2 separate regions of the Homo sapiens genome follow, and region 2 is linked to region 1. Evidence: fine-mapped expression QTL. A gene starts in region 1. The other region holds a variant in brackets. All regions are shown on one strand. Distances are from middle to middle. Region 1 holds the start of SLC26A9 (solute carrier family 26 member 9). Region 2 overlaps SLC26A9 (solute carrier family 26 member 9).

What was found.
Region 2: its variant is fine-mapped to the expression of SLC26A9 in esophagus mucosa (GTEx, PIP above 0.99).

The regions. Positions count from the first base shown.
Region 1 is chr1:205,942,248-205,945,150 of GRCh38, reverse strand. It overlaps SLC26A9 (solute carrier family 26 member 9), which reads left to right and starts at 1,695. Exons shown (of 21, transcript NM_052934.4): 1 at 1,695-1,786. All of the region lies in intron 2 of SLC26A9-AS1 (SLC26A9 and RAB7B antisense RNA 1), which reads right to left.
Region 2 is chr1:205,916,017-205,918,919 of GRCh38, reverse strand. It overlaps SLC26A9 (solute carrier family 26 member 9), which reads left to right. Exons shown (of 21, transcript NM_052934.4): 19 at 1-80; 20 at 1,566-1,637. Among named protein-coding and RNA genes, the nearest start is that of SLC26A9-AS1, 17 kb to the left of the region's middle. The variant G/T (reference allele first, on the strand shown) is at 1,235.

The sequences.
Region 1 (2,903 bases):
CGCCCTCTGGCTTTGCTTTGTTTAAAGACTCTATCATACAATTGTTCATTCATTCCTCAAATCTATATTGAGCTCCTCCTAAGTGCCGGGCACTGGGCTAGGTGGGTAGGGATACAAAAGAGGCACTGCCCCCTTGCCCTCCTCAGGGAGTTCACGGTGTTTGCAGAAAGACTGACAATTCCATACATAATTACCATTAATTGTGGTCAGTGTTATGAGAGTGAAGCAGAGGAAGCCAGAGGAACGAATGTGCAACATGTCAGCTAAGTCCACATAGGGGTCTGGGGAAGGGCTCCCCGAGGCAGTGTCCATGCACACATCCTTCCCTCAGCCAGGTGTCAGGGCACACTTGGGTCACTTGAATTCTGGCTCTCTTCAGCCAGTTGTCTGGCTACACCCTGACAACTCTGAGTGACCTCGGGTGTTTCCCTAGTCCCCACAAGCAATGCATCTACAAACTATCCCTTGGGTTGGGCTTGCAGACAATTCACTCTTTCATTCATTTAACAAATATTTATTGAGTCCCTATTAAGTACTGAAGCTAGCTCATTTCACCATGGGGAACTTTCGCCCCAACTTCCAGAGGTGCCTTACTGAAGCCCCCTGCACTGATTCCAGCCCACTTCAGAGCCTCTGGTTTCTTTTGGAGAGATGGGAGGACAGTTGAGGACGAGGACAGTGCAGCACTTGATGTCTCAAAGAATGGGCACCTGGTGTCGGGTAGTGACTCTCCCTCCCAGGAAGTAAATTAAGAAACTCCCCTACCCACCCTCCCAGCCCCTGTCCACAATTGCTTTCTGAGGTCCTTCCGTAGCACTCAATGGGCCTGGGATGGGCAGCTCTGCTGGCAGCAGCCGGAGCAGTGCCATGACCCAGGGAGACATTAATTCCTAGAAGCGGCAGAGGGCTGTGACTGGAGATTTGCTAGCCTTCAGGTCGCCTCTCATATAATTGTTCTAAGTCCAGTTTCTTGAGCTCTTTTATCAGATTCTAAACCCCTGTGTTCTCTTTGCACACTACCTGAGGGGCCAGGAATAATTTCCCCCATTGCACTGATGGATAGACCAAGGCACAGAGCTCACAAGCAACTTAACATTGGGGACAGAACTGGGAACCAGGTCTCCACCACAAACCAAAACCGCCTAAAGGCTCCCAGGGCCTCCCAGACATGGTTCTTCCCCTTCCTCAGGGGTGTTCAGAGGACTACTGTCTTCCCACCCCCTAGATCTCCAATCTTCAAAGCAAGCATCCCCAAGAGCACACCCCTCAGGTGGCCTCAATAGCTCCCATTGTCCAAGAGGCTCTTTGGCCTGACCCCCAGCCCCATAAGCAGCAGGACAGCAAGCTCAGAGGAGCTTGTCCTGCCTTGTCCCCCTCCTCTGCCTCGTCCCCCTCCTCCAGGGCCGCCTTGGGGGAGCCGGTGGGGCAGGAGCCCCGCTGAATGTGACCTATTGTCTTCGGGGTGGATTTAGGAAGTGCCAAGCTCCCATCACACAGCCCTGCTCCCCAGGTAAAACAAAAAAAGGGCTGTTCATTTGGGACCTTTTCCCCCTTATCTCCTTTTCCTATCTCCTCAGGCTTAGCTATGGTGTAGTGTTCAAAACCACTTCCCCTCTGAGCCAATCAGAAGCCGGGGCTCACCCCGTGGCCCTGAGGAAAAGTTATTTATAAACGCCTCCCTGGATTATTTGAGCAGAGCCCTTTCACACACCTCAGGAACACCTTTCGGCTGCCCGCTCCCCAGACACACCTGCAGCCCTGCCCAGCCGGCTTTGCTCACCCACTGGTAAGCCCCACCCAGCCCAGCCCACCCCACTGGGCTGGGGTCATCCCTGCAAGAGGGCAGTCACCAGGGGTACCGAGAGGAGGGATGACAGGAACCAACTGCCAAGCTGAGCACAAGTAGGAAGGACACTCTGGCCCCTGGAGTCTGAGAGCAGCCTCCCAGCCCTTCCCCTCTGAGGAGCCCTTTGGGTCTTCACGTCTATGTAAGGACCTGGGCTGCAAGGCTGGGCTTGACTGAGGGAGCAAGTAGGGTGAGGGTGTGGTGGTCGCCAGACCCCGAAACAGAGCGAGGCAAAGGCCTCCGAGGGAAAGGAAAATGTTAGACCTTCCTCCGCGACAGCCTTTGAAGCTGTGGGCTGCTCCTCTCCCTTTCTTTTCAAGTCTTGGAGGGAAAAGCTCTTAATGCTTGACTCACCAGCCTACTCTGCATGGCTGTCTCCCCCTCCTTCTACCGCCCAGACATCCTCCTTCACTCATGTACTTCTCCACCAGCTCGGGGAACTTAGCATGGACTACACAGAATCCCATGTGTCCCCATTAGTCCTGAGAAGTTGGAAGAGGTGGAGGGGGAGGAAACTGAGGAGTGGGAGAGGGTGAGCAAGGGACCAGCTCCATCAGGCAGGCGGGTGGGCGGTAGCTGGACCTGGGACGCCCGACTCAATGGTGAATGCTTCAACACAGAAGGGCTTGGGCCAGGACAGTGGATGGGCAGCCAGCTCTCCAGGCTCTCAGCCTCCAAACCCCTCATCCTGCAGCTCCAAGGGGTTCCAAGCCACTCTCAGGCAGTGCCCCCATTCCTCAAAACCAGCCCAGAGGGTCCCCAGCTGAGACCTAACAAAGCTTCTATTATTCCAGCATCAACTGCCCCCTTACACTTGGCCCCACGGGTCTGAGGACCAGAAGACCCTGGAGTGACGCAGCCCCCCAAGTGGGCAGACTGAGAGAGGGCTTTCCCCCTGAGTGGCTTCACTCATGCAGATGACCCTTTCTCAGAACCCCACAGTCCTCCCCCACCTCCCTCATCCTGGCCCTGGCATCCAGAACCTGGCAAGACCCTGCTTGGGCAGCATGGAGACCAGCATGGCCAAGAGCACCTCCACTGCCAGGAAGGCCTTCCC
Region 2 (2,903 bases), 26 kb after region 1:
TCTTTCCCAGCATACATGACGCAGTCCTCTTTGCCCAGGCAAATGCTAGAGACGTGACCCCAGGACACAACTTCCAAGGGGTAAGGTTCTTGCACCTGGGGAATCCTAGGCTCCAAGGCACTGAAATAGCAGGACCAAGAGGCATTATTAGAAAGAACACAGGAGAAGGTTTAAGTTCCAATATCAAGTCTGCCATTTCAGTTTTCTGAATCTGTTTCCTTATCTATAGAATGAGCACCATCAACTAACATTACCTACCTCTCTGCATTTTTCTTTTATTTTGTTTTAGGGTTAAATGATAATTACATCTTTTGTGTCACTTGAAAGCACTTTGTGTATTGTAAAAATTCTTTATCAATATAAGTTTTCTGGTTGCACAAACACCCAAAGCATAGTAGAGCAGGCCCACTCTGCTGGCATCGTTCCCTGCCTCCTCCTCATCTCTTTCTAAAGGGGGCTTTCGGGAAGGGAGGGGAGGGGAGTAAGCCTACCCATTTTAACTTACCGGAGCTTAGAGATTTCAGGCTGGTGAGGGATAAAGAGATTGGGTCTGAGTTTTGTCTCAGCTTTTTGACATTTAATTTACTAGCTCAGTAAGTTACAAATGGGATACAAATAACACCATCTAAAACTCCAGAAGACTGGGGAGTCAGAAAAAGCCTACCTCCTTGGGGTCCCTGCCCAGATCCCCAGTCATCTCTAGCCCTCAGGGTCCCCTCCCAGCTCAGCTCCTGCCCTTGGCCTCCCAAGACTCTTGTTGTGCCCCAGCCCTGGGTAAAAACCTCCCCTGCCCTCTGTGGGTCATAAGAAAGGCTTTTCTGGCCCTAGAGCAATGATTTGCTCTTTGCCTTAAGAGACTGATGAAGGTGAAACCATCTGTTCTAAGTGCTGAAAGACTGCCCAGGAACACACAGGGCGCTGGCTCCTGCCCTCCATGCCTAGAGGGAAACCCTGGGGAAACAACGGGCTTTCCTGCTTCGTGAATTTGTCCGCAGAGCAAAGAGGGAGATTCTGGAGGAAGCTGCATTAGTTGTTAGTGCCCTAATCATGTTCAGCTACTCTAGTTGGTATGTATACTTGATTAGTCATAGACTTATAAATAATTTATATTTTATATAATATATACTTACATATTATAGACCATTCACAGATACAAATCACACACATAAACACACACCTTTTCAACAGCATTGTGAGGGACAAAGCAGGCAAAGTGAGGCTGGTTATCAGACTT[G/T]AACAGATTAGAAAATATATTCCCAGGAGGACAGGAATTCCCCAAGGTCAGGCAGCTAGCCAATAGTTTTTCTAAGCTGAGTAAAACCTTCCCTGCCTCTAACGGCCCACAAAGGAGGGAAGACCGCGATACACACCTGTCTGGTATAAGGGGGAAGACCACAGCCGTGCTGTTTTTGTGAGGCAGGTAAGGGAAGGGGCAAGAGGATAAGTCATGTGTCAGGAAGCAGCGTCCAACCAGAGCCGGCCACCTGTCCCTTTTCCTGCCACCATGCACCAACTTTGCTGTTCAGTCACTGAAGCTCATTCTGCACTGGCTTCCTCCCTTCCAGGCTCCAGGGGATGCTGAGCTCTCCTTGTACGACTCAGAGGAGGACATTCGCAGCTACTGGGACTTAGAGCAGGTGAGCTGAGGGAAGGGGCTGTGAGGGTGGGAGCAGGGCGAAGAGGGGAAGGATGGGGTCGCTGTCAAATACAAGGCGTTCACTCAGCTGTCTCACCTCCAGCCCAGAGCAGTCACATTCAAGGCCACAAAGATTTGTGGTCATCTTTGTTTTTTTTCTTTTCCTTTTCTTTTTTTTTTTTTTTTAATTTGAGACAAAGTCTCACTCTATCACCCAGACTGGAATGCAGTGGCATGATCTCAGCTCACTGCAACCTCTGCCTCCCGGGTTCCAGAGGTTCTCCTGCCTCAGCCTCCCGAGTAGCTGGGACTTCAGGCCTGCGCCCAGCTAATTTTTGTATTTTTAGTAGAGACAGCTTTTCACCATGTTGGCTGGGCTGGTCTCGAACTTCCGATCTCAAGCAATCTGCCTGCCTCGGTCTCCTAAGTGCCTGGATTACAGGCATAAGCCACGATGCCTGGCCTTTGTTTTCATTCTTCTCACTCCCTGAAAGTTATCGTGGGGAGAGGGTGAGTCACTGGACCAAGTCCTAGAGAACCAGTATCTATTCTTATTCTCCAACACATCACCCACGTGACCCTGAGCAAGCCACATACACCCTGGGCCCTAGTTTTTATCATCTGTGAAATTAGGGGAAACATAGGTAATACCTGTCCCATCCACCACACAAGATTGGCAGGGCAGTCACTTGTTCTTTCATTAATTCAGCAGGTATTTATGGCGTACCTACTGTTTGCCTGACACAGTTCAGGATGGGCACATAGCAGTGAGCAAAACAAAGGCCTCTGCCTTTTAGAAACTTACGTTATGGTAGAATAGATGGATTCTGGGTCTACAAATGAATTATTATTGCATGTGGACAAGCCTTAAGAACTAAAAAATATGTGGCTGGGTGCAATGGTTCACACCTGTAATCCCAGCACTTTGGGAGGCTGAGGTGGGCGGACCACCTGAGGTCAGGAGTTTGAGACCAGCCTGGCCAACATGGCGAAACCCCGTCTCTACTAAAAGCACAAAAATTAGCCAGGCGTAGTGGTGCATGCCTGTAGTCCCAGCTACTCGGAAGTCTGAGGCATGAGAATCACTTGAACCTGGGAGGCAGATGTTGCAGTGAGCCGAGATCGTGCCACTGCACTCCAGCTTGGGTGACAGAGCTAGACTGTCTCAAAAACAAACAAAACAAAACCTAAAAGATATGTGGATATGAGGGATCACCATCCCCATAGGGCCCCTGGATTAACACCACCCCACCAATGCCCTGAATTA